Linked DNA regions of Homo sapiens: all the other regions are linked to region 5. The links come from fine-mapping of genetic effects on gene expression. A gene starts in region 5. Each other region holds a variant in brackets. All regions are shown on one strand. Distances are from middle to middle.

Region 1 (6,540 bases), 440 kb before region 5:
GATGTGAGGCAGGAATATGCTTGGAGTGTCTGAGGATTAGCATGAGCAGGGAGACCAGTTTGGTTGACAGAAGAGTGATAGGAAATAGGGGGTCAGAGCAGTAGCCAGAGGACGGATTCCGTTAGGCCTTGCAGGCCATGGTAAACACTGGGTTTTAGTTTCAGTGGTATGAGAAGTTACTGGAGGGTAGAGAGGAAGGCATGGTTGAGGGTATGACTACAAGGTTGAGGAAAAGGAGGGCTGAGAAACAAACAGCCACTTTTGCAAGAAGGTGCTCACTAATTTCTTTGGAATGATTTCTGTAAATTGCTTTGGCAGACAGTAACTGAAGGGCTGGATCAGTAATGGGTGAGACATTTGGAAAAATTAGGTCATAAAAAAGAAGAAAGTGTGGGAAGTGGTTAAGAATAGTAGGATGAAGTGAATCTTTTAGAAAGAAAAGCTGAGCAAGTCCAAAGGTGAGGAAAAATGGTTAACTTTTGAAATATGTACAGCAGTATTTGCTCAAAATGTTTAATATTATCTGTCAAGCCAAGACTGGCCCCAAGAAGAGTAGGAGGAGGGTCTGTGTGTTCACATTTTGGTACCTGTTTGTGACAATGCTGTTGCTTCCGCTCTCCCAGTCACCTGGCGCTGATGTTCTTAGGAGCTTGTTTTTACTTGTGTCGAGTGGAACTAGCAGGTTCACCATGAGGTTTGCAAAGTGAATGGCCTGACTAAAGACAGTGCTTTCCTCATGTTGCACTAGCTCTTGCTGAGTTGACTTGCTCAGGGTAGGCCAAAGGCGTAGTTGCTCAGCTGCCAGGTCCATTGCTGTCTTCTCCTGATAATGGTCATCAGGAAGCTTATCCTAAAAAATAAAGCAACACAATCCAAAAGAGAACCATCACTTCAGGTGAGCTTAAAAAACATAGATTTTTTTTTTTTTTTTTTTTGAGACGGAGTCTCGCTCTGTCACCCAGGCTGGAGTGCAGTGGCACGATCTTGGCTCACTGCAAGCTCTGCCTCCCAGGTTCACGCCATTCTCCTGCCTCAGCCTCCCGAGTAGCTGGGACTACAGTCACCTGCCACCACGCCCAGCTAATTTTTTGTATTTTTAGTAGAGACGGGGTTTCACCATGTTAGCCAGGATGGTCTCGATCTCCTGACCTTGTGATCAGCCCGCCTCGGCCTCCCAAAGTGCTGGGATTACAGGCGTGAGCAACCGCGCCCGGCCTAACATAGATGTTTTAAATAACTATTCTATTAAATGCTTAAATCAGCAAAAATGAAAACATAAACATAACATAACAACCACAAAACAAAACCTAGTCTTCTTTCCCAGATCCAACAGGCCTTGAGTGGAACTATGTGACAAACCTCAGGAAGCAGCAGCAAAGCACCTTATAGCTTGTGAAGAGCTGGTATGTCTATGGTCTCACTTGTACCTAACCTAGGGCTGGCTCCGGGATAGACTTCTTTAGAATGGCTGACAAAGAAGCAGTGACATGTGTTTGCTCTATGAATGCTTTCGAGATGTGTCAATATTAACATTACATCTGCTTAAAAAATGATCAAAAGCACCCCCGAAGCCCAGTAAATTTCTGGAGTAGAATGATAATCAGCCGTTAAGGCTGCTTTAAGTTCAATTCATGAGGATGATAGTTTCTAACACTTATTATTACTGCATACCATGTACTCTTCAATGCACTTTATATATGAGACACTAAAATCTCATAATAATCATATCCATTTTACCAGTGAAGATATAAGGCACAGTGAAGTAACATGACTTGCCCCAAACCAGAGAGCTAGTAAATGATGTTTTAAACTTTCAGAGTATTTAAAACTACTCTTTCAAATTAAAAACAATTTTCTTGATTTTTAAATTTTTTTGATATTTTTCATAAAAATATTTTATGCTGATAAAACATAGAGAAACATGTAGAATATTCCTAGAAGAAGACCTAGATTTATTACTGGCATTTTTTTAATACAACTACCAAATTTTACATTTATTTTGGAGTTAATTAACTTTAATTTGACATTCCTCCAGGGAAGTTAGTTGCATAGAGAAGTATGCCTGTTATTTTAGGTTTGTTCTTTCTATTCAACTTCCTATAGTCATTTCCAGGAAATTCTTATTTATTAAAGTATATTAAAACAATCCTAGTGCTGAAGAACTGTATTAAGAAGTTATTATGGAAAAACATAATGTCTGAAATCAACAGAGGAAAGATATCACAGGGCTCCCTAAATAAAACCCAAATACACTGGCAGGAAGTAGCTAGAGTTTTTTTTGCCCTGGGAACATCTGCTTTCCTTAAAGCCAGAATCCTAATCCCACACAATTAGAGTTCTTTTCTTCTCTCTTACCTTTTGCTTCAGATGCGGGGCATGATTGTCTTCCTTGGCTGAGAGATAAAGGGAGCGAACCTGTT[C/T]CTGCACTGCATTGTAAAAGGTTGTCTCCCAAAATTGCTGATTTGTCCAAATGGGGTGGTCTTGTACACACGTGTAAGCAAACTGGCTGACTCCAGGGGCAAGTTTCTGTGAGAACACACAAAATACATCATCATGGGGCTGGCAGAATTATAACAGTTCATAAGGTCACAGGGGCCACAGTTAATCATAGATGAGATCAAAGGATTTCTCTAAAGAATATCGTATGGTAGTACAGGCTTAGCAATCAGCAACTTACTCCTTTTTAACTGGCAACTGTGGGCTTGCTGTTGGATCCTTGAGAGTCTCAGTCACTTTATCAAAATGGGTATTTTAGTAACAGCTAAAAATCAAAGCTGTTATTATATCAATTAGAAAATACAGGAAAAGGAGGCACTGTAGGTTTAGTGAATATTATTACAATTAGGGCATATAATAAAATCCATCACGATGTAAACATAAAACTCCAGATAATTTAACATTTCTTCTATGGCTTTAGGGTACTCTTTTTAAAGAGACAGCAACTGAAATATGAGTGAACCTACAGCTTGGCCTTACACACAGAATGAGGATATAGCATGAATTAGGGACTCAGGAGAACTGCACTTTTCCTACTGCTCATTCCAGCCCATTACCTCCCCGCCAAAGCTGTTGCCTGGCTCACATACTCTCTAGAAGACTGCCCTGGGCTTCAAGGGCATTTTCTGGTAACCAAATTTGTGCAGGGAAAGATAAACACAAACCAAACCTCCTTCCTTTCAGGGACTTCCTGCTGGGTTTCAGCGTAAGAGTAAACTTAAGAGGTGATTAACAACAGAGGGAAGGAAAATGAACTCTGCAGGCATTTAGAAGGCACTTCATATATATTTAAGTTTGTTTAGTTCCAAAACCCCTGCTCTTTTTATAACACCAAATTGTCTTTCAAAAGAACTGAAAGTAAATCAAAATAAATGAAATGCCAAATTAACTGCCAATTAGCACTTCTGTTTTCCCCTCACTTTATGATTTTGTTTCCCAAAGTAATATTCTACCTTGGAACCTCTGAAAAAAACTTGTATAACATTGCATTTTAAATTTTAATGATAATTTACATTGCCAAATTTCAGTTAGTGACTTGAGTCAACTTTCCAAAACTATTTCTGCCACCTCTAAAAGCTAAGGATGTTTCAAATTTTTAAAAATTCATAATTTTCCAAGAAAGAGTAGGTACCATTTTCAATAAACATTTTTTGGCCCATTTTATTCTTTGGAATTGAGTTCATCTGTTTTCTGTGAGTAGAACTAAAGTTTCTGATAAGTTTTCTTTCGAAGCAATTTAATAAGCTGAGTGTCTTCTCCTGAAATGCTGGACACTGAAGATGATTACTAAGGTTATATAACTGTTACACAACAAAAGTTGGTTCATTTCTTAGGGACGTATACCAGATATATAAGACATCTGGTAAAAATTACACGCTCAATACATGCTAATCTCCTTTTTGGTCTAGAACTGCATACCACGAAATGTAGTACCTGTGTAGTTAGAAGCTGGGTGGTTGTGATTTTGCCTTAAAGAGTCTCTGTGTACTACATGCCATCTGTAAGACCCTTTCAAGATAGGACTGTGTTACTGCTGCTGAGGTAACTGGCTATAACCTCAATTCTCCCTATTAAGTGGCTGTAAGTTGTGGCTATGAAGCAAAAATCAGGAGTTCTTTGAGGGTGCACAGGGATCATTGTTGGATTTCATTATGCCTATCTGCTCATTTAAGAAACAGTTACTGTCTACCTATGGGAAATCATGAACAAAATGTGTGTGGTTTTGTGAGTGCGTAAGCAGAAGCCACACACACTGAATCACAAGCTCCTTCTATACTCTGCATGAAGACACTTGGGACATGGATTACACACTTTTTCCTCCTTCATTTTTTAGTCCTTTACTGTAAGGACCAACAATTGTTTCAGTAGCAGTACACAAGCCTATTTTGAAACAGTTTTTTTTTTTTTTTTTTTGAGACAAGGTCTGGCTTTGTTACCCAGGCTGGAGTGCAGTGGCATGATCATGGCTTACTGCAGCCTCAACCTCCCAGGCTCAAAAGATCCTCCCACCTCAGCCTCCCTAGTAGCTGTAGTAGCTGGGACTACAGGTGTGCTCCACCACACCCAGCAATTTTTGTAGCTTTTTTTTGTAGAAAAATTTGAACCTGGGAGGTGGAGGTTGCAGTGAGATGAGATGGGGTTTTTGTAGAGATGGGGTTTCATCATATTTCCCAGGCTGGTCTTGAACTCCTGGGCTCGAGTGATCCACCTGCCTTGGCCTCCCAAAGTGCTAGGATTATAGATGTGAGCCCCCATGACCAGCCTGAAAGAGATTTTAAAGGCACTAAATTCAAATGAGATAAAACTGTAATTCTCAACTGCCTTTACCATGAGTATACTCAGGGCAGTACCATTTCTTACAAATGCAGCATAACATAATCAATGGCAACTCTAAAAATGTTGAAGTCTTGAAATTATATTCATATAGATAAACTCCAAAAAACTGAGCTTTTAACAAATCCTTATCAGATTCTCACAAAGTACTTTTAGGATAATCAGCATGCCAAAAAAGTTATTAATTAAACATCTTTTATTAAAACTTAACAGAGATGTACAGGAATCTGAGGGTGTAATGAAGCCCCACCTTTCTTCAGTATTTTTCACACTGATGGTGTATATTTGCTTTCCTTGGCACATTTGAGTTGACATTACAGGTTGAATGTCCCTTATCTGAAATACTTGGGACCAGAAGTGTTTCTGATTTTGGAATATCTGCATCATATTTACTGGTTGAGCATTCTAAATCTGAAAATCTGACATCTGAAATGCTCCAATGAACATTTCTTCTGAGTATCATGCCAGCCCACTACAAGTTTAGAATTTTGGAGCATTTTGAATTTTCTTTCTTCTTTTTGGAGACAGGGTCTCACTCTGTCACCCAGGCTGATGACAATCATAGATCATTGCAGCCTAGAACTCCTGGGCTTAAGGGATTCTCCCGCCTTAACCTCCTGAGTAGCTAGGACTACATGCATGTACTGCCATGCCTGGCTAATTTTAAAAAATGTTTTTTGAGGCCAGGCACAGTGGCTCACGCCTGTAATCCAAGCACTTTGGGAGGCTGAGACAGGCAGATCACTGAAGGTTGGGAATTCAAGACCAGCCTGGCCAATATGGTGAAACCCCGTCTCTACTAAAAATACAAAAATTAGCTGGGTGTGGTGGCAGGCACCTGTAATCCCAGCTACTTGGGAGACTGAGGCAGGAGAGTTGCTTGAATCTGGGAGGTGGAGGTTGCAGTGAGCTGAGATCGCGCCACTGTACTCCAGCCTAGGCAACAGAGTGAGACTCCATCTCAAAAAAAAAAAAAAAAAAAATGTTTCTTGAAACAGGTTTTCACTATGTTGCCCAGGCTGGTCTTGAACTCCTGGCCTCAAGCAATCCCCCCACCTCGGCCTTCCAAAGTGCTGGGATAGGATTAGGCCACCAAGTGTGGCCCAAATTTTTGAATTAGATATACTCAACCTGTATCTTCATGTTTATGCACAAACTAAAAGTTGAATATGCAAAAACTAATCTAAATAGTTTGAGCAAAAGTGGGACTATATATGTTCCAAGGAAGAAAAACGGTGCAAGACAGAGTGACAGTGGCCCAAAGGGTCAGAACCCACAGCCTGTTTACTAGGTGAGCATTACAGCAGGGTGAAGTGACTATAGTACAAACACTTGGTGGCAAGACAGACACAAACGGCTATGGCATCTGTGATAGTGGCAGTAGTCTTAGTAAACAGAGAAAATAAGTGCCTGCAGATAAAATGATCTCCTGATATGTGCGTTAGAAATCATTAACCCCCAAATACTTAAAATATTATTCTTTTTCTAGACATGCAGTTTGCCTTCTTTCTTTGTGGTTTCTTGCTTTGTCTGGTCAACCACAAGCAGGGAGCACTGTGTCCCTCAGTGAGGATGGGCAGGGCCATTCCACTGATGGGTGTTCTCAGGACCAGCAGAGGGCAGTATCACTTTATTCTGCCTAGACTCCATCATGGCTTGATCTACAAATTGCAAAAATGGAACTTTGCAGTCAGCTTGGGCTAGAAAGTG
Region 2 (6,540 bases), 29 kb before region 5:
TTTGAAATTTTTCATAATCAAATGTTGTAGAGGAAAAAAAGCCTCATCCAATCCTTCAAAGTGCAACTCAAAATAAACTACTTCCATGAGCCCTTTCCTGTCACCCTCAGCCTTCTGAACCTAGTCTTACTGTCTAGAGCACTCACCTGGCAATATGATAATTATCTTTCCACAGACATCTCATCCTTATAAAATAGACTATAAGCCTCTTAGGGGCTGCTCTCTGATGCGAGGGTAGAAAAGAGTTTAGTGATCTGTTTATTATGCTTTCTATGTATGTATAAATTATTTTATTTTATAAACCGTAACTTCCAAAAGACAACTGTCAGTCAACTAAAATGTAAATACATAGATGTATATGCATACACTACACACACACATTGAAAGCTAAAAACTTTTAACCAAGTATCCTTGATTTTTTTGAGTCCTTGATTAATGAAATATCCTATACCTGCTGAATTCAACTTAATAGTTCATCTATGCAAAAATAATTGGTTGATGCTTTCTCTAAATGTTCTGCAAAGAGCTATGACACCAGAGGTCTCAGATTCTTTACCTGAGGATAAAAGGATCCTCAGGGAGTCTATAATTTTACTACCATATAAGACGAAAAAAAAACTTGCATTAACAAGTAATGACATTCTTTAAAATTAATAAATATTTTATCAGTGTTCAATACAACATTTAATCCTAAAGAAATTGTACTACTTCCCTGTTTTAAAAAATTATATACAATATACATTTAGAATCTTAAAATCTCCTCCTTATAGATACCTTCTTTCTATACCTATTGAAGGCCAATTGATAAATCATTCAAGAATCTTCTGTTATCCTTTTAAATAAAAAAAATCAGCACAATAAATCAACATTTCAGACAAAAGAAAATAAGCACATTATTCATATTTTATATGGTTTTAATAATAATTACACATTTTTATCCCCCAAAGAAAAATTATGAAGCTGGAAGTATCAGATATAGTAAAAATTCAAGTTTTTTTTTAATTTGTGTGAATTATAATGACATAATGCTGGAAGAAACCACACTTTACTTTCTGTTTAGAGGGGTTGCCCTGACTTCCATGTATGAATGATCAAGAGAATGAATTACAGTCTTCTTAAAACCTTAATGATAACTATGGTTAATTCAAGCTACAATAGGTTAATTACTAGTATCAAGAGACATGCAGTAACTTCTACTAGAATAAACTCTGACCTTTAAATAAGTCAGAGACTCTTACTACTAATAAGTACCTAATTAAACATTAGGTTCCTTATTTATAAAGTGAAGGGTTTGTATAAAATCTCTGCTGTACTTAAGAATAGAAGCCTTTGGCTACATTAGAGAATACTCAACTCCATTCACCCGGAAAAATGACATAGAAGAATATACCATATCAAATGAAAACTTTATCCTGGCTGAAATTAAACTCTCTGGAATATATTAAACACATTTGAACATCCTTACGGAAAAGGTGAGGAAACACTTGAACAGTCCAAATTATCCACTTAAAAACGAAAAAACAACAATATCCAAAAATCCCATCATTCAAGCATTATCTGAGGAAAATTATCCAAACAGGTCTTAACAATAACCTGATAACTACAAAAATATTCATGATTTATAAAGTTAATATTAAAAAATAAGAACTACAAGATAATCCAAGGTGCTTATGTGAATGTGCTTCTGCCTTAGGTAAAGCTTACTAAGGAATATTTGTCAACAGCAGGCAGCTTGGAGATCTTCAAGCTTTACATCATCAAATTCCAAGATGGTTTTACTGCCAAACTGCCCTCTTTATAGCTCTTGAGTATTCCTTATAATGGGGAAGGAATGCTCAGCAACCATAATCTTCCTCCCACTCCTATCAGTAACTGGTACAGTGATACTTGGTCACCTTCTTCTCTAATCCAAATACTCACAATACTTCAGGGAAATAAAGCTCAGCTTCTCATTAGAAAAAATGTTGAGAATAACTGACAGAGTTATAATAAAGATCTCACCTATGTATACTAAAAATTCTTTTAGGGAAGATTATATAGGGAGATGCATGCTTGAAAAGAAAATGGGAGCAGAAGGATAGCATCTAGGCTGCCATCCCATCTTAGTATAATTGCTCATTCAATATTAATTCAATATGTATTTACCAAGGGTCTTCCATGTGCCAGGTATTTTGCCAGGTACTACAAAAAAAATGAGCAGAAAACAGTTCCTACTTTATTTATTTTTTTATTTTTGTTAATTTTTAAAATTTTTATTATACTTTAAGTTCTGAGGTACATGTGCAGAACGTGCAGTTTTGTTACATAGTTATATACATGCTACGATGGTTTGCTGCACCTATCAACTCGTCACCTACATTAGGTATTTCTCCTAATACTATCCCTCCCCTAGCCCCCCACCCCCCGACAGGCCCTGGTGTGTGATGCTCCCCTCCCTATGTCCATGTGTTCTCATTGTTCAACTTCCACTTATGAGTGAGAACATGTGGTGTTTGGTTTTCTGTTCTTAGGATAGTTTGCTGAGAATGGTTTCCAGCTTCATCCATGTCCCTGCAAAGGACATGAACCCAACCTTTTTTAAGGCTGCATAGTATTCCATGGTGTCTATGTGCCACATTTTCTTTATCCAGTCTATTATTGATGGACATCTGGGTGGGTTCCAATTCTTTGCTATTGTGAGTAGTGTCGCAGTAAACATACGTGTGCATGTGTCTTTACAGCAGAATGATTTATAATCCTTTGGGTACATACTCAGTAACAGGATTGCTAGGTCAAATGGTATTTCTAGTTCTAGATCCTTGAGGAATTGCCACTCTGTCTTCCACAATGGTTGAACTAATTCACCCTCCCACCAACAATGTAAAAGCATTCCTATTTCTCCGCATCCTCTCCAGCATTCTGTTGTTTCTTGACTTTTTAATGACTGCCATTCTAACTGGTGTGAGATGGTTATTTCACTGTGGTTTTGATTTGCATTTCTCTAATGACCAGTGATGATGAGCATTTTTTTCATATGCATGTTGGCTGCATAAATGTCTTCTTTTGAGAAGTGTCTGTTCATATCCTTTGCCCACTTTTTGATGGGGTTGTTTTTTTCTTGTAAATTTAACAGTTTCTATCTTTAAAAGCTCACAGTCAAGTGCAGAAATCGGGGGGGGGGAGAGGTGGGGGGGTATCAACACAGGGTATCTTTTTAAAATATGTCAATGAATATACAAACATACAGTCAATATAAAAAATCTAGAGAACTCAATGAAAACCACATGCAGCTTAAATTCTGTGAAACACGCCTAAATATTATGGACTTATGTGAAGAACATATATGCACCTATGTAAATAATAATAGCTGCCTTCTTTTTGAGACAGGGTCTCGCTCTGTTACCCAGGTTGGAGTACAAGTGGTGCAATCATGGCTCACCACAGCCTCAACCTCCCAGGCTCAAGCACTCCTCCCTCCTGCCTCAGCCTCTCAAGTAGATGGGATCACAGGTGCACACCACCAGGCCAGGCTAATTGTGTGTGTGTGTGTGTGCGCGCGCGCATGTGTGTGTGTGTTTTAGAGATGGGGGTCTCATTTTGTTGCCCAGGCTGGTTTTGAACTTCTAG[C/T]CTCAAGTGATCCTCTCACCTTGGTCTCCCAAAGTGCTGGGATTACAGGCATGAGCCATCATGCCTGGCAGCCCAACCTGCCATTTTTTTTAGTACTTTTTCGGCTAGGCAGAAGACCTTGCTTATCAGTTCATTTAATCCTCATAACAATCACATGAGGCAGCTACTACTCATACTTTTATCCCAGATTTACAGAGGATAAACTCAGCTCTGTAGTTAAATGATTTGTCCACAGCCACATTCCAATAGGTGGCTAAGCACAAACTCAGGTTGTTTGACGCTAGAACTTAATGCTACTTGTGACCAGTCAATCGCCATGCTACCTCATACAGACCCTCACTGCAGAATTACAGAGGAGAGGACACTATTTGTGCAATTAAAGACCTCTCGGCCAAGGACAGAGCACTGAGACTGTAAAGGACTAGGAGACACTGATCACTATGGGGAGGGGATATCCCTGCATGCAGGACAACAGGACCCAGGCTAGATACGGGTAAATGCAGATTTCCTCTGCTACTGACACTGTTTAGATACCGTGAGACATTCTGAGTATGAAGTTGAAGCTAGTAGCAAACTACTCAAAGATTAAATACAAAGTGACATAAACATTCCTTTTAAAAAAAAATTACTCTGGTGGCAATATGGAACTAGCTAGAGAAGAATTTAACTGAAAGCAAGGAAATAAAGAGATGTCTACACTTGATTAGTTATTTCCTAACAGCTATGATGATGATGACAGTGATGATGATGGTGATAACAGAAGCTCCAATTTTAACATGAGGGATATGGACCACATTTCCCAGGATAAGTTTTGGCCAAAGGAAACGTAGTTGATTTTGGCCTTTAAACGGAAGAGGGTCCGGGCGTGGTTGCTCACGCCTGTAATCCCAACACTTTGGGAAGCCGAGGCTGGCAGATGGTTTGAGGTCAGGAGTTCGAGACCAGCCTGGCCACCACAGTAAAACCCCGTCTCTACCGAAAATATAATACAAAAATTAGCCAAGTGTAGTGGCACATGCCTTTAATCCCAGCTACTTAGAAGGCTGAGGCAGGAGAATCGCTTGAACCTGGGAGGATGAAGTTGCAATGGGCCGAGATCGTGCCACTGCACTCCAGCCTGGGTGACAGTGAGACTCCATCTCAAAAATAAATTAAATTAAATTAAATTACATTAAATTAAATTAAAAAGGGAAGGGGGCTATCTCTTCTTCCCTACTTCCTCCATCCTCCTACTTGGAATATAGATGGGATGGAGCTGAGATGCTAAGTACAAAGCTAGAAGCAGCCTGGTCCAGATGGCTATACAAACCCGAAACTGTCTACACCCAGACTTTAACTTTTAAAGAAATAAGTTTCTATATTGTTTGAGACACTTAAGTCCCTATTACTGGAAGCCAAACCTCTATCCTAACAGAGTGCACTTTATAGTAATCCGAGTAAGAACTGATAAGGGCCTAAACTATGGCAGTGACTGTGAAAACAGAGGAAAAAAAAGATGTGAGAAAATTTTGAGGGAAAAAAAAACAACACTTTGAAGTGAAGGTGAGAGAGAAAGGAGTGTGGCAAGTTTCTGACTTGAGCGAATGGCCAAGGGGAAGAGGTTTGAATGAGCCAGATATGCTTGAACATGCTGCATTTTCTTTTCTTTCTTTTTTTTTGAGACAGGGTCTTACTCCTACTTGGAATATAGATGGGATGGAGCTGAGTGGCTAAGTACAAAGCTAGAAGCAGCCTGGTCCAGATGGCTATACAAACCCGAAACTGTCTACACCCAGACTTTATTCTTCTACAACCAAATTCCTCAAACACACAATCTGAACAGTAGCAGTGAAAGGGAGTTTAAGGTGGGGGTGAGGGAGAAGGGAGTAATATGGTTTTTTAGTAATATAGTAATTTACATTTTCAAAAATCTTCAGTGTTTCACTATCTTAAATGAATATTTATTCTGTTGTTCCTCTCATTTCTTTCCTCCTGTTAAAAAAATGACTTTTATTAACTCCAATCTCATGTGGATTTGGGTTTACTCACGCTAAGATTTGGTAAAACATCTGTCTCCAAAGAAAAACAAGTAACATTCTTTTCAAATTCCCTAGAAGACCGCGTAGGACAAGTATATGAAGCATTTATAAAATTCACTCCAGTCCCAACTGCTACTTTCCACTGTGAATTAATTTTCATACTATTATTGTCCAAGTTTGTTCTGACACTTGATTTCTCTCTGTAAATGTTACTAGAATTAACTTAAGCTAGGAAAAACAAAGGACATAGTTTTACCTACAAGCAGATGTCATTAACTATACAGATTTTTTTTTCCACTTAAAAACTTGCCACAAAACCACTTATTTTCTTTAAACAAGAATCTTCCATTTTAAGTTCTTAAACCTATATTTTAAATTACTATAAGGACAGAATGTTTGCTTGAAGAAAAAAAATAGAGAGATGTCAAGTTCCCAAACAATTTGTTTTCTTCAAATCATGGTATTAGTGAACCTTGTAAATTATTAATACAGTACACAAAAAGCTACAATGGATCAACGAAAAAGATGACATTTATAGAATGGTGTCATCAGTGGAAAATAGCCCTTTCCAGAAACAACACAAATTCTTTCTCCTAACTCAGTCTGTTAGGAAAATCACCAAAAGCCCTTCAACTGTCTACTCAATAAACAATCAGTAAATAATTGTTTACTTCCCAGTGTGTAAAGCATTCTGCTAAAAAAGTAGTAGTCTCTCTGTTGAAAGGACATTTTTTCCAGTTTCAAAAGTTTCTCTACGGATAGCATACTGTGATATATTTGGGCCATGCTCTCAAGGAACTCTTTTTCAGTCTAAAAAAATTAGACAAATGTAAACGGAAAGACCTTGAAATTTTCAGAACTCCAATTCCTTGTTTCAAACATTTCTAGGACACAGTAAAGACCAAAGACAAGCAGC
Region 3 (6,540 bases), 39 kb before region 5:
CAGGATGTTCCAGCATAAGGAGGTACCCTCTACTCAGTCCTTGTTCTTGCTTTTGCAAAACTCACTGTTCTACTATTTCCCAGTGGGTTTCAAGACCAAATAAGTACATTTACAATGGTGATAGTGACATCAATAACTAAAGTTTTGGTCAATCTCTCAAAATTGAGAAAATGACCAAAAGTGGGAAATTGTTAAAGCAAACCAAATATGGCCTGAGAAGGACTCTGTACTTCTATATTTGAGTCCTTGTGGACGAACTGCAACCTAGCTTAATATGCAGACAAGACTGAAAACCTAACTTAGGAGTATGTGTCTGTAATAATAGCTAAATCTTGGCCAATCCCATCGGCCATACTTCAACCATTCATAGACTGCTGAGTGTTAAAACTGTGTTCAAATAAGGCAAACGCTGGCCGGGCGCGGTGGCTCACGCCTGTAATCCCAGCACTTTGGGAGGCCAAGGCGGGCAGATCACGGATCACGAGGTCAAGAGATCGAGACCATCCTGACTAACACGGTGAAACCCCGTTTCTACTAAAAATACAAAAAATTAGCCGGGCATGGTGGCAGGCGCCTGTAGTCCCAGCTACTTGGGAGGCTGAGGCAGGAGAATGGCGTGCACCTGGGAGGCGGAGCTTGCAGCGAGCTTGCAGCGAGCTGAGATCGCGCCACTGCACTCCAGCCTGGGCAAAAATGCGAGACTCTGTCTCAAAAAAAAAAAAATCAAAAAAAAGAAAATAAGGCAAACACTGAGCTGTAACCAATCCAGCAGTTCTGTACCTCACTTCCGATTTCTCTATGTCATTTCCCATTTTTTGTCTATAAATCTTCTTCCACCACGTGGCTGCACTGGAGTCTCTGTGAATCTGCTGTGATTCTGGGATCTGCCCAGTTAGCAAACTGTTCATTGCTCAATTAAACTCCTTTAGATTTAATTCAGCTTAAGTTTTAACATGGGAAAAACATATTGACAGACAACTAGCAACCTCCACACAAGAGGTAAATACCAAAAAAAAAAAAAAAAAAAAAAAATCAGCTTTAGAAGTTTCAGAATTTGCCTCTAGAGAAAAGAAAAATGATAGCAGGAATTAGAGCGTAGTGTTAAGGAATACTAGTTTCTATAATATGCTTCTACAGATCTGACTTTTTAAACTATGTGCATATATAATATAATGAAAATAAAAAGAGTTATGAGAGAAAGGAAAGCAGAAATGAGCCACAACTTGTTTCTGAAAGCCTGTCTTTTTCTTTTTGGGAGGAGATGCAAGAGATAGACGTAAGAACTATATAAAATCAAAAGTAAACCCTGTCTGCACATTAGTACTCTTTAAGACAGTGATTTTAACTGCTTGGAAACGCTTTTCTTAATTTCTTTTTGTTCCTGGATATATCCCTGATTCTGTGGAGAAACAGAATATTATGGCAAAGAATCTCTAAATCACAGACTCTACCAATACAAAACTACAATGATTACTTTTGGGAAGTCTGCATTACTTTTTGCTAAAAGGGGCACTTTTTCTCATAAAGGAAAAATCACCGCCCTGATTTTTCAATTTAATATCTCAATTGCCCTGAGATATTACTATAATGAATCACAGTATAATTTAGTTTGTCAGTTATTAATACCATAATTCACACATTAGGAATCTCCAAATCTCCAAAAAAAAACAAAAAGGCCTTCTTTGTTCTTCTGCCCCCTTATCACGCTGATCCCAGATAAAAAGCCTAGGTAAGCACTGAGTGAAAAATAAATCTGGCCACAAGATACATGAAAAAATATTCAACATCGATAATAGTATGGGAAATGCAAATTAAAACCACAGTGAAATATTACCTCACATCTGTTAAATAGTTATTATCAAAAAGATAAAAAATAGCAAGTGTTGGTGAGGATATAGAGAAAAGGGAACCCTTACACACTGTTGGAAGGAGTGTAAATTAGTACAGTTATTATGGAAAACAGTACGGAGGTTGCTCAAACAATTAAAAATACTCAGGTATGGTGGCTCATGCCTGTAATCCCCACACTTTGGGAGGCCCAGGAGGGAGGATCACTTGAGCCCAGGAGTTTGAGACCAGCCTGAGCAACATAGTAAGACTCCTAGCTCTACAAAAAATAACAATATTTTAAAAATTAGCTGGGCATGGTGCTGTGTGACTGTGGTCCCAGCTACTCAAGAGGCTGAGGTAGTAGGACTGCTTGAGCTCAGGAGGTCGAGACTGCAGTGACAGTGCACTCCAGCCTGGGCAACAGAGCGAGACCCTGTCTCAAAAGAAAAAAAAAAAAAAGAACTACCTATATGATCCAACTATCCCACTACTAGGTATATATCCAAAGAAAAGGGAATCAATATCTCAAAGCGATATATGTGCTCACATGTTCATTGCAGCATTATTCACAGTAGTCAAAGATATGGAATCAACTTAAGTGTCTATCAACAGATGAATGAATAAAGAAAATGTGGTATACATACACAATTGAATACTATTCAGCCTTTAAAAAAAAAAAAAGAGGATGGGCACCGAGGCTCACGCCTGTAATCCCAGCATTATAGGAGGCTGAGGCGGGTGGGTCACTTGAGGTCAGGAGTTCAAGACCAGCCTAACCAGCATGATGAAATCCCTATTAAATATATTAAAAAAGTTAGCTGGGCATGGTGGTGCATGCCTGTAGTCCCAGCTACTCAGGAGGCTGAGGCAGAACAGCTTGAACCCAAGAGGTGGAGGTTGCAGTGAGCTGAGATTGTGCCATTGCACTCCAGCCTGGGTGACAGAGTGAGACTCTGTCTCAAAAAAAAAAAAAAAAAAAAAAAAAAAAAAAAAAAAAAATCCTATTATTTTCAAAAACATCAATGAACCTGGAAGACATGATATTAAATTAAATAAGCCAAGAAGAGAATGATCTCACTTATACATGGAATCTTAAAAAACTGAAACTCACAGAAGCAGAGGGTGAATGGTGGTTATCAGGGACTAGCAGGTGAGAAGGATTGAGGAGATGGTCAAAGGACATAAAACTTCAGTTAGCCAAAAGAAAAAGTTCAAGAGAACTATTGTATGTCATGGGGACTATAGTTAAAAATAATATACTGTATTCTTGAAAAGCACTAAAAGAGTAGATTTTAAGTGTTCTCAGTATACAAAATCAGTAAGTTAATGTATATGTTATTCAGCTAGATTAGCTATTTCTCAATGTATACATATTTCAAAACATTATGTTGTACATGATAAACACACATAAATTTTATTTGTCAATTAAAAATAAAAATCTTTAAACAAAAGAAAAACAAATCTACTGGTTTGTCAAGTTCTTTGGGGGAAATGGTTATAAATATTTGAAATATAAATAAAGGAGAAAAAACAGAAACACATGGTAGCAAAAGTAAATAAGTTACTGTCA[G/C]TTCTGTGAAGATACATTATCCTCCAGATATTCGTTTTACATAAACAAAAGTGGTAGAGCAACACTGAACACTATTAGGCTTTCCTAGTGCAGCTGCATCAATATTTTAATGTTTACTTAGATTGACCATAATAGTTCCTCTTTTTCTAACTTTTTCACATTTATTATCTCTGACCATTTCTAAATACTATGAACAATGACCTAAAAAAGCATTTTTGCTGAATCAAAAAGTCAGTGTGACTAATTCAAATTATAGAAAGAAAATGGTCATCCATAAAATTAAGAGTTACCTAAGATCATACATAGCTAATGAATGGCAAAGATATAAAACCAGGTCTCTTTACCCCATTACTGAGGAAACTATGTCAAAACAGGAAAGAAGCACAACTTTAGTCATGTTTCCCTGGTCAACAGCGCCACAAGCAAAGTCCCTGTTGCTCCCACCTGTCAAATCAGTCAACACCATTCACATCAACTAAGTAAATTATTGTGCTTTACTTACAGGGTGTATTACACGAGATGGGCTCTTTCCAATTGCCAAACTATATGCAGACTCATTTGAGCTACTTCATAAAGAAAATTTAGTATAAGAAAATGTGGGGGAATATGAAAATATAAGAAAAATCTCCACAATCAGGCTTCACTGACAACTGCAGCACTGGCCAGGATAAAATAAAATTGGTTCCCAATAGGAAGGAATTCTGGTTGATTATTGTCAAAATTTAGCTTCCCAACTCTGCCCCTATTATGACTGTAGTTTTATTTTACTCTCCACAATAACTACTCTCTTTCTACTACATGATTTCTACTGTCCTGCAGCTTCTGCTTACTACATTCTCTGATATCTCACATTGAAATTCCCTAAGAAAGATAAGATTGATTTAATTCATCATTTACAGAGCTATTGGACAGAGTTCCTGGGCCAGGCCAAGCTATAAGCCACTGGCCTACCTATATATCACTGATGCCAGTTCCTGGTCCAGGTAATTGTGGCAAAGAAGAATGGCTTCATAACAAAGCATAACAACTGATACAAGCCCTTGAAGCCGCATTAGTCAGAAATGAGCTATGGTTGTAGCTTCCACTAAGAGCACTGTTTGCCCATATACATTTGGATTATAAACCAAAATCCTCATTAGATAAATTCAGACTTAAAAATCTGGCCTACCCTCTCCAGGGTATAGTCTCATACTGTCACCCCTATACACAATACTCCTTTCACAGCAGATCCAAAACAGCAATCTCATCTCACACCAGCCCCCATAATTTCTACTCCTGACCTGGAAAACGTAATAGCATCTCTCTCATCAAAATCTTTTCTCTAAATTGAAATTTTCCTTTGACCCAGTATTTATCCCATATTTATCCTATAACGAAGTCTGACACAAGAATTATGCTAGACGAAACTATTCAGATGAAAGATAATTATTTATTATAGAAGAATGATTGTACTAACTGGTACATCCAAACACTTCCTAGTAAAAATACAGGTAAATTTTACTGATCACCATTTATTAATTATTCACCACGTCAGGCACTGAGCTAAGCACTTGACAGGAAACATCACGCATTAGCAAACTCAGGCCCAGAAAGGTTAAGTTCTTATCCAAGATCACATCTAATAAATAGCACAACTGAAATTCAAACTCTATCTCTGTGATGCCAAAGTTCATGTTTTTAACAATTATCCCATACTGTCAATGACTGCAAAGTACAATCATCAACAGGATTTTATAGCATTGACTAATCCTACCTCTTTCCCCACAAAAAAATCTTCCAATGTGCTCTAATGCAATGATTCCCAAAACACTATGCAGTGAGATATCATACAGTAAGAAAGTTCTATGACCAAATAGGCATAAGAAATGTTACAGGCCAGGCTCAGTGGCTCACGCCTGCAATCCCAACACTTTGAGAGGCCTAAGTGGGAGGACCACTTGAGCTCAGAAGTTCAGGATCACCTATTATCAGTAGAAACCTTGTATCTACTAAAAATTAAAATTAAAAAAATAGGCATGGTTGTGTGTGCCTCCACTCTCAGCTACTCAGAAGGCTAAGGTGAGAAGATCACCTGAGCCCAGGAAGTAGAGGCTGCAGTGAAATACGATAGCATCACTGCACTCCAGCCTGGGTGACAGAGTGAGGCCTTGCCTCAAAAAAAAAAAAAAAAAAAAAAAAAAGAAATGCTGTACTAAAAAGAGCTTGGTCAGGCACAGTGGCTCACGCCTATAATCCCAGCACTTTGGGAGGCCGAGGTGGGTGGATCACTTGAGCCCAGGAATACGAGACCAACCTGGGCAACATGGTGAAACTCTGTCTCTATAAAAACTAGAAAAATTAGCCAGGAGAGGCAGGAGGACTGCTTGAGCCCAGGAGGCAGAGGTTGCAGTGAAACGAGATCGCGCCAGTGCACTCCAGCCTGGGTGATAGAGCAAGACTGTCTCAAAAAAATAAAAATAAGTAAAAATAAATTTAAAACAGAGCTCAAACTTCTATATTGTAGGACATATCAGAATTTTTAACATGCCAATCCAAACTATGAATCTCTAAGAGGTATAAATACACACACATACACACACACACACACACACACACACACTTTTTTTTTTTTTTGAGACAGGATCTCCCTCTGTCACCTGGGCTAGAATGAGTGGTGCGATCAAACCTCATTGCATCCTCAAACTCCTGGGCTTAAGCAATCCTCATGCCCCAGCCCCCAGAGTAGCTAGGACTATAGGTATGCACTACCACATCTAGCTAATTTTTTATTTTTATTTTTTAAAGGTAGGGTCTCTCTATGTTGCCCAGACAGGTCTGAAGCTCCCAGCCTCAAACAAACCTCCCACTGTGGCTTCCCAAAGTGCTGGGATTTACAGGCATAAGCCATTGTGCCCAGCCAAGAGGTAAATAAGTAAAGATATTAAGCAGAGTTTCTCATAATTATTTAGCTGAAGTTACCACTCTTCACAGGCCATTGCCTGGAACTCATGTTTTGTGGAATGCACCTTAGAAAATGCTTATCTAGTAAAAAAAAAATTTCACATGACCATCTTTTTCTTTGATAATTTCAACTAAACTAGGACAGTTACTAATCAGTAAATCTTATGATTACTGCTCATCCATACACCACTTCTAGGTGA
Region 4 (6,540 bases), 320 kb before region 5:
GGGATCCTTCTGTTGGCCGTGGAACTTTCTGGAATGCCATATGAGGATTTGGATTCTCCTGTAATATCAGACATAGGTAAAATTACTCCAAGTTAAAATAACAATGGCAGATCACCAGGAAGGGAGTGGGAGCTTACAGGGACACGAGCTGGGTAGTTATACATACATTCATATATACGCCATAAAACATGAAGTACCAAAATCTTACTTCTTCTTACATGCTCTATCAGCAGCATCTGATACAGCTTGGCATCTGTCTTCCTCTTCCATGAACACTTTCTTTACTTGGTTTCTAGGTCTTCTTGCTACATCTTTGTCTATTTCTCATCTCCCTAATCCCTTAACAATGTGAATATCTCAGGGCTCAGTCCTTGGGTCTTTTTTCTATTAACATTCATTCCTTGGTGATCACTTCCAGTCTCCTATCTTTAAACCATAAAAATACCAACAATTCACAAGTTTTTTTCTTTAAACAAGTTTTCTCCTAAACCCCATACCCACATGTTTAACTCTCTATACAATATTTTCACTTGGATTTTTTAAAAAATTCTAAACCTATGTCCAGAATGCAGCTCTTAATCTTCACCCACCTCTATCCCTGCTTTCTTCAGTCTTCCTCACATCAGTAAATGGCACATTTATTTTTTCCAATCATTTAGACAAAAAGCTTAGAGTTATCTTTAATGCCATTCTCTAACACCCAACTATCCATTCCTCTGCAGATCTTGTGGACTTGACCTTTAAAATGTTTACAACTTGGCCAGTTTCACAACACTTTGGTTCAAGTCAACACCTCACGTTACAGCAATACAACAGTCTCCTAGTCTCCCTGCTTCCACCTGTACTCCTTCATTCAACACTGCAGACTATGTGATCTAGTTAAGAGTATGTCAGTTCATCACATAACCGTTCTGTTCATTCCAATGGCTTGTCATCTCACTCACAATAAAACCCAAAGTTCTTAAAACAACTTACAACACCCTACAAGATCTGGCCTTTCTATATGATGTGTCCTGCCATGATTTCTTTCATTTTTTTCTGCTCTAGACACACAGAACTTCTTGTTCCTGACTCAAAGCCTTTGCACTTAACTGTTCTCTCTGCCTGGAATGCCTGTGCCCCATGAATCTGTACAGCATCCTCCTTCCTTTCTTGCATTTCTTAGCTCAAAAGCCACCTTTCCCAATCACCTTATCTTAAATTATACTCTCTTCCCCAACACACTCCCTATCCCTGTTATATTTTTCTCTATATCACTTATCACTCTCTCACATACTTTACATTTTATTTAACTTGTTTATTGTCTATCCTTCTCTCCATAAAATAAAGCTCCATGAGAGTAGACGTATACCTACTGCATCTAGAAACTGCCTGGCACACAGCAGGCACTCTAAAGCTCTTCCCACTGCATCTTAATGAGGGGGACACAATGCTGAACACACATAAGGATTGCAAGAATTGAATTAAATGTGTCAGCTAATATTTTTGTAGACTCTTTGGGTTGGCATGAACTTTTTAGTCATCTAGTTAAGCAGGATTAGATCTCAAACACTCCAGGTAGAATGGAATCCATTCTTTCATAAAGTTCTCTAGGGAAGGCTGCTTTACAACTATTCTTGACCAATTCTAACACTTATTCTTTGCGACCAGAAAATTCCTTATTCCCACTGAACTTATGTTATTCATGCTGTAGATTAAACTCAATACTATCCCATATATCCTATTTTTTTTTTTTTTTAGACGCAGTCTTGCTCTGTCGCCCAGGCTGGAGGGCAGTGGCGTGATCTCGGCTCACTGCAAGCTCCACCTCCCGGGTTCACACCATTCTCCTGCCTCAGTCTCCCGAGGAGCTGGGACAACAGGGCCCACCACCACGCCCGGCTAATTTTTTGTATTTTTAGTAGAGACAGGGTTTCACTGTGTTAGCCAGGACGGTCTTGATTTCCTGACCTCGTGATCCACCCGCCTCAGCCTCCCATACATCCTCTTGACACTTAAAATGGCCAACTGCCATCACTTCTTAGGGCTGCTCCCCACAATTCTTTTTGGTTATATGGCCCAGACCTAGATAAAGAAAATGTTGGGCTAAGGCAGATGATATAGCTAGTATGCCTCAGCAATATAATAGAAACACACTGCTTCCTCCCACTGCCGTAAGTGTCAAAACACATGGGTTCCAGTTCTTGCTCTAGTCCTTATTATGTGATGCAGGGAAAACAACTTTGCCTAAGTTATATAATTAAGCTTATCTTATATAAGGCTCCTCAGAAGGTGAAATCAGATTTAAAATCTGTTCTTGCCAAAGCAGCTCTCATACATGCTCTGTATTTCCCCCCATATCTAGCAAAGACAGGGAAAAATAAGTAAGTAAATCCTTAGTCCAACTCTTAGTAATCACTCTTTCTAAACCAAATGTTGAAAAAGTGTTTTACAATTCTGTCTGGACTTAACACCAATGTCACTGGCCTGTAGTGTCTAAAACTGCCCTTTTCAAAAAGTAGTGTTTTTGTTCTTCTCTGTTCTTTAGGCATGACTCTTACTCATATACTGTCTTCCCAAAAATAATAAATATCAATTCTCTAAAACATATTGGGTAGGTATCTTTTTTTTCAGGCTGGCCAGGTAATTCAT[A/G]TGGATCTTGAGGTCTGAATTATTTAAAGTATATTCATTACTTTGGTTTCTATCTATATTTTCTTTATAATAAAAATTAAAACTCTAAATATATTTCCCATGAAGTAAATATTTATAATAAAATTTAAAACTTGGAAAAATAAAAGTAGAAATAATCTTAGTAACACCAGTATTTTTTCTAGTTATATATATATATTTTTCTCTATTGTTATATTATCTGTCTTCTGTCTTTTTCCAAAAATGACTTGGGGTGGTTTAGAAAAAGCAGGATGCATTGGCCAGGCACAGTGTCTTATGCTTATGTAATCTCAGCACTTTGGGAGTTCGGAGTGGGCAGATCACTTTAGTCCAGGAGTTCAAGACCAGTCTGGGCAACATAGTGAGACCCCATTTCTACAAAAAAATAAAAAATTAGCCAGGCATGGTGGTGCCTGCCCATGGTCCCAGCTACTCAGGGGACTGAGGGAGGAGGATAGTTTAAGCCTGGGAGATGGAGGCTGTGGTGAGCTGTGATTGCACCACCACACTCCAGCCTGGGTGACAGAGTGAGACCTTGTCTCAAGAAAGGAAAAAGAAAAAGAAAAAGAAGGATGCACATATCACTTCTAGTCAAAATCTCTAAAGAGTTGGTCCTATAATTTGGTAAGTTCATCCTAAACTTCATAGGGACATACAAAGACCAAAAATAGTCAAGGAAATTCTGAAGAAGAGTTAAGTGGGAGAGTTAAGATTTCCAGATATCAAAACTTACATAAACCTTTAATAATTAATACAGTACAACAACTGTTATTAGTGAAGGGTTAAAAGGATGAATGGAATAGAATAGAGAGCCCCAAAACAGGACTATGTGAGAAAATATGATAGAGATAGGTGGCATGACAATTCAGGGGGAAAGGTTAGACAATTCAATGAGAGGTAGTATAACAAAGTATTTTTAGTTCATGATCTCTGATTTCAGAACGCCTCGTTTCAAACTCTAGCTTGGCCACTTACTAGTAGTGTGACCTGGTGCAGTGTCAATTCACTTACCCCATGTGTTGTAGTTTTCACATCTGTAAGGAAGATAATAATATAGTACCTACTTCATAAGGTTCTTATGAGTATTGAACGAGCTGTTACAGTAAAGCTGTTAGAACACACAAACACACACACACACACCACCCCAGAATGAATCTAAAGGCTGTTTTCCAAAAATTTTGGCTACATTCATTTAAAAAATATGTATTCTCTTATTCTCTGCATATTCTATGGCATGGTACCATGCTTCTATAACTAAAGCCATCTCTTTCTCCCAAGATTTCCAACACATTACCAACTACTTACATTTTAGTAATTATAGTAGTAGTATCCAATATGTTTTTTGTTTGTTTGTTTGTTTTTGAGACAGAGTTTCACTTTGTTGTCCAGGCTGGGGTGCAGTGGCGCGATCTCTGCTCGCTGCAACCTCTGCCTCCCGGGTTCAAGTGATTCTTCTGCCTCAGCCTCCCAAGTAGCTGGGATTACAGGTGTGCACCACCACGCCTGGCTAATTCTTTTGTATTTTTAGTAGAGACGGGGTTTCACTATGTTGTTCAGGCTGGTCTCAAACTTCTGACCTCGTGATCCACCAGCCTCAGCCTCCCAAAGCGCTGGGATTACAGGCGTAAGCCACCACGCCCAGCCCTCCAATAAGTTTTAAATAGAGTCTTCCCAGAAGCAATTAGAAATATTGTAAACCAAATCCATACACAATTTAGAATTACAAGCATTAATTTACAAGCTTGTAAAAAAGATCATGTTAAAACAAAGTTCAAAGTTGAATATCTGTAGTTATATAGATATTCTACACCAAAATGCAGATTAGGGATTTTGTTAAATTATGATATATTTAGCTGTGTTTAGAAGATTCGAAAAAGACTTATGCCCCAGAATACAGTAATATTTGGTTTTCTGGCTCCTGAGTCTGTATACTGCTGCCCTCTAACGGGCAGCATGATAAATGTAAAGGACCACATTTGCTACCTTGAACCTAACTTGGTCGCGAAATGACTTTTGAGAAGACAATAGCAATGAGAGGAAGTTTAGGGTAGGGCTCACTGTATTCTGCATATACTTAAAAACATCTGCTTTTACTTGTAACACAAGATGTGTTTGGACTGGTCCCTTGAACGTCACCAAGCTCATTAAAAGCTACAGCCAAATTTTGTGTTGAATCTCCTTGTTGAAATAAGGAAATCCGTTATTTTCCGACAGTACAAAGCAGCAGCCAAATTTTCATCTTTGATTCCAGAGAAATGCAAATATAAAGTAATAAACAAGGGCTAGACAACTAAACACTTACAGTGAACCTGGCAACATTTTTTTCCAAAGTAACCAAAATAAACTACTGAAAAGAGTTTGGCAGAATGCACTGTCTTTTACATTTTGAATTTGGATAATGATTTTCAAGGAATGGTCTCTATAATCCTGCTTTAAGAGTATACTTTAGTAATTCGAGGTAGAATGATTTTTCTCAGACATGAAAAAGTGACATATACACACATCATCTGGTCTGCAGCACCCCTCCCCCCTGCAGCACGCCCAGCTACCCCCAGCTTTGGTAGGCTAAGTGAGAATATGCCTAGGGGTTACAGAATACAAGGCTTGAAACTAATTTCAAATAAAAGCAAAGCAAGGCACAACAAAAGCCCCAAACCCCAATGGAAATTCAAAGTAGGCAACAGCCACCTTGGGAAAAAGAAAATTTTTCCTATGTATTGGTCTCAGCACTGAAAGACAAATCAATATGATATTGTTAGAGCTTATCAAGTTTCCCAGATTAATTCAAGTATTTGAAATTATTTAACGTGCACAAATTATACTTAGAGCTATGTGGGATAGCAAGTGACACAAATTTTTTTTCTAATACAGTTGATGGCAATACTGTCACTGGAGTAAATTGTTAAACATTGTCAAAACGTAACTGGACTCTTTAGAGTTGCCTGGTAGTGTACATGACATTGATGGAATGACTCATCCTCAATTTTCCAACTTCATAGGACTTTCAAGGATCACATCCTTGTGAGATGACTGAGACATTCAACTGAATGTCTTATCCTTAATACAAGTAGATGACTTTAATATTTGATATGCTGGTTGCCCTAATTCAGGGTTTCTCAACCTATGCACTAATTGACATTTGGGCTTGATAATTATTTGCGATAAAGAGTAGGTGTCTTGTGTATTGTAAGATGTTTAGAAGTATCTTTGGCCTTTATCCACTAGATGACAGTAGCACAGTCCCTCCAACTGTGACCACCAAAAATGTCTCCAGACCAATTTCATGAAGTAGGGTGGGAGGGTTGCTCCTGTTGAGAACCACTGCTCTAATTCATGACTCCAGATAGAGATTTCCTATTCTAAGACAAGTACTCTTGTCACAAGTACGAAGGCAACATACAGTGACCAGCTAACAGTCCTATACTCTCACTCACCTGCTGAAATACAAATTAGAATCACAATGAGATACCACCACATACCTGTTGGAAAGGCTAAAACAAGACACCCCCAACACCGCCCAAAAAAAAAAAAAAAAGAAAAGAAAGAAACCAGCCGGGTGCAGTAGCTCATGCCTATAATCCCAGCACTTTGCGAGGCCGAGGCGGGTGGCTCACGGGAGTTCGAGACCAGCCTGATCAACATGGAGAAACCCCGCCTCTACTAAAAATATAAAATTAGCCAGGTGTGGTGGTGTATGCCTATAATCCCAGCTACTTGGGAGGCTGAGGCAGGAGAATCGCTTGAACCCAGGAGGCAGAGGTTGTGATGAGTCAAGATTGTGCCATGGCACTCCAGCCTGGGCAACAACAGCGAAACTTTGACTCAAAAAAAAAAAAAAAAAAAAAAAAAAAAGAAAAAAAGAAACCAACTGACAATACCAAGTGTTAGTAA
Region 5 (6,540 bases):
CGGGCAGGTGGGCTAGTGACTTTTTCCGAATAGACTAAGGCAAATAGTAACAGAATATAATCCACTAAACACACACACACACACACACACACACACACACACACACACAGACTCCATGTAGATGTCAATAAATGATTAAGAGTTTAGTGAGGAACAAGATATTTACATAGTTTCAAAGTACATGGCAAAAACAATTAAGTATTAACTTTACAGTGGAGAAGCCTCGCAGATATTACTTATATCAAGTAATCAAAGTAAAAATAACCAACAATGAAACAAAGTGAAATTGTGCACCACCTGACAGGATGCAGTGAGCATCACTTCTGTGATATCCTTCCCACGTGCATATTCGTATGTATCTAATCATGAAGGAACAGACAATCCCAAATTGAGGGGGCAGCCTACAAAGTGACTGACCTGTAATTGTTAAATATGTTAAGGTCATGAAAGTCAGGAGAAGATAAAGGAAATGTTCCAGATTGAGGGAGACAAAAGAGACATAACATGAATGCAACACATATTGCTAAACTGGATCCTTTTGCCAGTAAAGAGATTACTAGCACAATCAACAAAACTTGAACCAGTCTGAGAACTAGATGGAGTACTGTATCACTATCCATTTCCTGTTTTGGTTATTACACTGTGATCATGTAGGAGAACATTCTTGTTTGCAGAAAATGCACATTAAAGTATTCTGGGATGACAGGGCATCAGGTCAACAGCTTCCTCTCAAATTGTTGGGGGGCGGGTAGAATTTTTTGTACCATTCTTGCAACTTTTTTGCAAGTCTGTTATTGTTTCAACATTGTTGGCCGGGCGTGGTGGCTCAAGCCTGTAATCCCAGCACTTTGGGAGGCCGAGGCCGGTGGATCACGAGATCAGGAGTTCAAGACCAGCCTGGCCAGGATGGTGAAATCCCGTCTCTACTACAAATACAAAAATTAGCGGGCGTGTTGGCGGGCGCCTGTAAATCCCAGCTACTCCGGAGGCTGAGGCAGAGAATTGCTTCAACCCGGGAGACAGAGGTTGCAGTGAGCCAAGATCGCACCACTGCACTCCAGCGTGGGCAACAGAGCAAAACTCCGTCTCAAAAAAAAAAAAAAAAAAAATTGTTTAAAAGTGGGGAGGGGGGGAGGCGGAACAATGTCACTAAAAACTAAAGGTTAAAAAACTGATTTCCCACACTTAATCTTGATAGAAAAGAAACATCAGACTATGCCAAATTACTAGGAAATAAAATTTTGGATCCAGAAGTTTAAACATTTAAACTTTCTCTTTAACAATTGACCTCAATCAGGTCATGACTGGTGAAAGAGAAAAGAACATGAAAGGTTCCCACTAAAGGAGAGGAAGTTCTTAGGAGAGGAATAATGAAAGAGAGAGTGGACCAAGAGTGGGTAGAACAATGGTATTCTGAGCTACCAATGGCTGTAACCATCAGGAAAACACAATCTCAGCATCTCTGAAAAATGAAGGGGCTGTAGAGCTGATATCTCAAATTCCTTGCAAATGTGGGACTAGAATTGCCCTAAAATAGAAGTGGTTTCCCAGCTCAATTTGTTATTACATTATGCTTAGCTACATAGTAATACAAGAGAATACAAATACAGAAATAAACGTGCATGAACCCTGAATTCTCTTAAGTTGTGGAAGTCCGTCAATTAAAGTGTAAAATACAATGCATTTGCCCAATTGTTCCTTACGACGAAAATTCTGTGACAAATAAAAAGAACAATGAAAACACATTAAAGTGAAACAAGATCACCTTCAGCGGTCAGCTGGCTGTCCTTAGTTAAAAGACAAGTCATGTCACTGTGAAGTGACCGTCACATTTGTCCTGAAAGAATAGGGAGCATTTCCTAGAAAGGGGTAAAAGTGCAAAGAATCCTGTCCCCTTCCCTGGTACCACGCGTTCCTTGGGGAGGTCACTAGGCCCCCAACAGCACAGGGGTGAGTTAGCACTGGACTCTCAGCACTTCCTTTCGGAGAGGACAACCCCCTGCGTCACTGGTTACTCACTCAGGATGCAGGGCAGAAGTTTATCCCCGAGGAACTTAGCACAGTTGGCTCCCGCCCTCCCAGCCTTGCGGTCCTGGGCCCAATCTCAGGGCTCTCTCTGCCCCGGGTACCCTGCAGCCTCCAGCGGGAGGGTCGCGAGACCCCAACTCGCCTCCGGCCCGCCCAGCGGGTGCGCCCAGGGGCTGGGCAGACGCGGCGTCTTCCCTCCCCCTACCGTCGTGCCGGCCCCCCCACGCCCACCGCCAGGCTCAGCCCAGCCGAGAAGGCCGGACGCCGACCGCCCGCTCCTCCGAGACTCGGCCTGGCCCTCCCCGACGCCCGTCCCCGACGCCCGGCCCCGCGGAGCCCACTGGACAGCGGCCGGGGGGCGGGGAGGCCCGGGGGCGGTGCCGCCCCACACCCTTACCTGGCTTCTCGTGGTCATAGCCTACCACGATGAAGTAGTCAGCCAGCCGGGCCATGGCCGCCGCCGCCGCGCTCGGGAAGCGGGTCCCCGTCGCCGCCCTCGCCGCCGCCGCCCACCCGGCCCGGGAGGGCTCAGCATTTTCCCTGCAGCGGCAGTAGCGGCAGCGGCAGCGCTTCAGCCATGTTTGACAACCGAGGCGCGCTCTGCGCTTGCGCGGCGCCTAGTGCCCGCTCCTCCCCCGCCCCCACCCGCGCTGGCTCGGCTGCCCCAAGCCCGGGCGGCGAGCCCACCTCCACCCTCCGCGGGCCTCGCGGACTGCTGCGCTGGGGGAGTGGGCGGTCGGGCGTGTTCCCGCCACGCGCCGCCACCGCGGCCCCTGGAGGTGGTTCACTTTGAGGCCTGGATGCTGCTTCACGGCCCCCTCTGCCTCCCTATTTTTCCTAAAGCAGGGGGTCCTTCCTTCCGCCTTCTCTATTCTGTTTGGATTTGGAAGAAGGGATGTGGAGAGTTGAGGGGTCACTTGGAAAGCTGGCTGCTTCCTCTGCTCCCCACCACCACCAAAGATGAAATTCTCCCGCCCTCGGTTGGAAGCAAGGAATTTGCATCGACAGGGCTTTTGCTGCACGTTTCCTGTTTATGTTGTGTAGATGGGAATTTTAGAAACATGCCACCGAGCAGACGGGGGAGGGAGAGGCTTTTACGCAATCCTCCAAGGAGCCTCGGGTTTCAATGCCGGGTGGGCCGGGGGCGGTCGGCCTGGGCTTCCCCCGGAGCGCCCGGGAGAGCCAGATTCCACCGAGGAACGCGGCATCCCCGGGATCCTCCCGAACTGGGCTGGCCTCTCCCTGGGGAGCCCCGCACGCCTCGGCTTGCTTCCCTCGCAGCGGTCCCAGGGCTCTCGCAGCCCGAGCAGGTGGACTTCCAACTTCCCTGCTCAAACATGCACAAAAATGAATAGATGGTCCCGTCCTTCCGTCTCGGGATTATCAAAGTCGCTTGCTTTTTTGTTGAACCTCCTATTGACCATTTCGAATTTGGCTGGTGTGACATTCAGGTGAACTCACTTTGTCATTTGTTAATATCTCACGAAGTTTTAGTAGAATTTGTACAAGTGGTAGACCAAAGTTTTGGAAATCTCCGTGGTTTAGAAGTTGTCTTTGTGGTTGCTTATCACTGCTCACTATTAATTGAGGGTTTGATCCTTCATATTTACACATAAGACAAGGCCTCTTAGCAAAGCGTCTAGTATATAGTAGGTGCCTACAAAATATTTTAAATGAGTAAATGTGCGATTTTCCCCAACGACCAGCAGGAAGCCGCAATGGCTCCAACTCTGAACTGAGAGAGTTGACATCTCAGCTCCTGAAGATTTACTCTGCTGTAATTTACTATTTCCCCTTTCTCTGCCACACTTGTTTCATCTACAAATTGGGAGGGTTGGGCTGCACTAGAACTGAAACTGAAGGAATACTTTAACTCCAGGACCTCTATGTCAGTTGCTAATGGTAAAACTGAATCAGCTGAATTTGCAAACGTGGAGGGAAGATAGTTTGATCCTGAAAATAATTAAACCAAAAAAAAAAAAACCTCAGTCATACCCCGTGCAGCAATCCTCTCTGTAACTTCCCTGAGAGCTCATCATCCAACTTGATCACTTTCAGTAAAAAGTAATCTTACTTCCTTGGGAGGCAGCGCATTCCACTGTTTAACAGCCCTATTGTTAGAAAGTTCTTCCTTATTATTTCAGAGTTGTCTTACTGTAACTTCCCCTGATTCTGCTCTCCGGAACTATCCAGAAAAAAAAAATCTATCTTCATATGATAGATTTTTAAGGCAGCTATCATATTCCTTCCCAACTTTTCTAAAAATAGGGCAAAATTCACATATTGTAAAATTAGCCACTTGAAAATGTAGAATTCAGTGGCAATTAAGTACATTCCCAATGCTGTACAACTACCATGTCTATCTAGTTACAAAACATTTTCATCACCCAAAAGAAAACCTCACAACCATTAAGCAGTCATTCTCATTCTCCCCTCCCACAGCCCCTGGCAATCACCATTTTGCTTTCTGTCTCTATGGATTTACCTATTATGAATATTTCATATTCATATCATACAATATGTGGGTTTTTTGTGTCTTGGTTTTTCTCACTTAGTATATTGTTCTCAGCTTGTTTACGGGCAGATACAGTACAAGGTTGTAGCATCACATTGAAGTATCAATACTTCATTATTTTTTATGACTCAATAATATTCCATTGTATATTGTGTTAGACTGTTCTCACGGTGCTAATAAAGACATACCCGAGACTAGGTAATTTATAAAGAGAAGAGGTTTAATTGACTCACAGTTCCACATGGCGGAAGGCAAGGAGAGCAAAGCGGCAGACAAGAGAGCTTATGCAGAACTCTCCTTTATACCATCAAATCTCATAAAACTTATTCACTATCACCACAACAGCAGGAGAAAGACCCGCCCCCATGATTCAATTACCTTCCACCGGATCCCTCCCATGACAGGTGGGAATTATGGGGTACAATTCAAGATGAAATTTGGGTGAGGACACAGCCAAACCATATCATATGTATATACCATATTTTGTTTATCTGGAACAACCCATATGGACATATGGGTTGTTTCCACCTTTTGGCATTGTGAATAGTGCTGCTTCAAACATGCATGTACATGTATTTGAGTACCTGTTTTCAATTTTGGGGATATATTCTTGGGATTGGAATTACTGGATTAAGTAGTTCTGTTACTACTGTTTTCCACAGTGGCTGCATCATTTTACATTTTCACCAGCAATGCACTAGGGTTCTGATTTCTCTGCATCTTTGTCAACTCTTGTTTTCCTGTTGTTTATGTTTTGTTATAGCTATCTTAGTGTGAAGTGATATCTCATTGTGGTCCTGTTTTGCCTTTCCCTAAAGACTAATGATGTTGAGGATCTTTTCATGTGTTTATTGGCCATTGCTAAATCTTCTTTGGAGAAATGTCTATTCAAGTCCTTTGCCCATTTTTTAATTGATTCTTTGTCTTTTTGAGGTTGAGTTGTAAGAGTTCTTTATATATTCTGGATACTAGTCCTTGTCAGATATATGATTTGCAGATATTTTCCCATTCTGTACGTTGTCTTTTCATTTTCTTTTTAAAATTGTTATGCCCTATTCCCCCCCCCAAATATTTCCTATTTTTATTTTATTTTTCATTTTATTTTTATGTAGAGATGTTGTATCATGATGTTGCCCAGGCTGGTCTTAACCTCCTGTCCTCAGGCAATCCTCCCACCTAGCCCTCCCAAGGTACTAGGATTAGAGGCATGAGCTTCCACACCCAGACTTCATTTTCTTGATAATGTCCTTTGGCTCAAAAAAGTTTTTAATTTTGATAAAGTCCACTTTTTTAGTTTGTTTCTATGCTTTTAGTGTTATATCTAAAAAATTATTGCCATATTAAAGGTGAGATGAAGATTTACTGGTTTCCTTCATAGTTTTAGCTCTTTAGTACTTTGACCCATTTTGAGTTAATTTTGTAGTGGTAAGGGGTCTTGTTTTACCTTTTAAATGTCTTGGCTTTTATTTCATTTGCAAGTACTCATTTAAATTATTTTAATTTTTTAAAATCAAAGTTTATTGTTTTTAAGCCTAGAATCAAATGCTATTCTGCTTTTAGGCATATTTCATCTGTTACTGTCATAAGTAGACTTCCAGTCCATTTGCAAATGCCCATTTTGTCACACAGAGATTTTAACATATCCTAGGTACATGTAGAAAGGCACTGTGTGTTTGTATATACATGTGAACATATTTTGTATACACTAAAGCTGTGCTTTGCTTCTCAGCCAACAGCTGCCAGCCTGTTGAAACTGATAAGCCCTGACAAGGCAGCCTGATTACTGAGGTTGGCTGAAAGCCAGACCATCCCCTACAATAACCACCATCACCTTTCACCAAAGAGAGAGAGAGTAAAGCAAGCCCAGATTTGTTTTCCTGAAGGCTGATGGGAGCAGGAAGGGAAGAAGGGTATGTAACACTATCATGATGTGTATGTGGCAGATACCTTTCTTTTTTGCTTTAGAAGACGAAATAGATGGAATGCGGTGGCTCACA

Alleles and levels. Positions count from the first base shown, and alleles are read on the strand shown. Sizes are in standard deviations (SD) of each study's normalised expression. Not every link is listed here.
With allele T in place of C in region 2, the expression in thyroid of the gene that starts at base 2,630 in region 5 is higher (small effect, 0.22 SD a copy in GTEx).

What was found. PIP is the estimated chance that this variant, and not a neighbour inherited with it, causes the effect.
Region 1: its variant is fine-mapped to the expression of SBF2 in whole blood (TOPMed, PIP 0.91).
Region 2: its variant is fine-mapped to the expression of SBF2 in thyroid (GTEx, PIP above 0.99).
Region 3: its variant is fine-mapped to the expression of SBF2 in whole blood (TOPMed, PIP above 0.99).
Region 4: its variant is fine-mapped to the expression of SBF2 in whole blood (INTERVAL, PIP above 0.99).

What each region holds. Positions count from the first base shown.
Region 1 is chr11:9,855,871-9,862,410 of GRCh38, forward strand. It overlaps SBF2 (SET binding factor 2), which reads right to left. Exons shown (of 40, transcript NM_030962.4): 18 at 2,356-2,526; 19 at 588-850. The region is part of intron 1 of LOC101928008 (a long non-coding RNA gene); the gene reads left to right. Among named protein-coding and RNA genes, the nearest start is that of LINC02709, 100 kb to the left of the region's middle. RefSeq lists an enhancer at 1-37. The variant C/T (reference allele first, on the strand shown) is at 2,421.
Region 2 is chr11:10,262,344-10,268,883 of GRCh38, forward strand. The region is part of intron 1 of SBF2 (SET binding factor 2); the gene reads right to left. Among named protein-coding and RNA genes, the nearest start is that of SBF2, 29 kb to the right of the region's middle. The variant C/T (reference allele first, on the strand shown) is at 3,607.
Region 3 is chr11:10,252,111-10,258,650 of GRCh38, forward strand. All of the region lies in intron 1 of SBF2 (SET binding factor 2), which reads right to left. Among named protein-coding and RNA genes, the nearest start is that of SBF2, 39 kb to the right of the region's middle. The variant G/C (reference allele first, on the strand shown) is at 3,401.
Region 4 is chr11:9,968,488-9,975,027 of GRCh38, forward strand. SBF2 (SET binding factor 2) reads right to left here. Exons shown (of 40, transcript NM_030962.4): 14 at 1-58. Among named protein-coding and RNA genes, the nearest start is that of LINC02709, 210 kb to the left of the region's middle. The variant A/G (reference allele first, on the strand shown) is at 2,632.
Region 5 is chr11:10,291,590-10,298,129 of GRCh38, forward strand. It overlaps SBF2 (SET binding factor 2), which reads right to left and starts at 2,630. Exons shown (of 40, transcript NM_030962.4): 1 at 2,426-2,630. The coding sequence starts at 2,480. RefSeq lists silencers at 2,028-2,167, 2,208-2,287, 2,318-2,597, 2,718-2,767.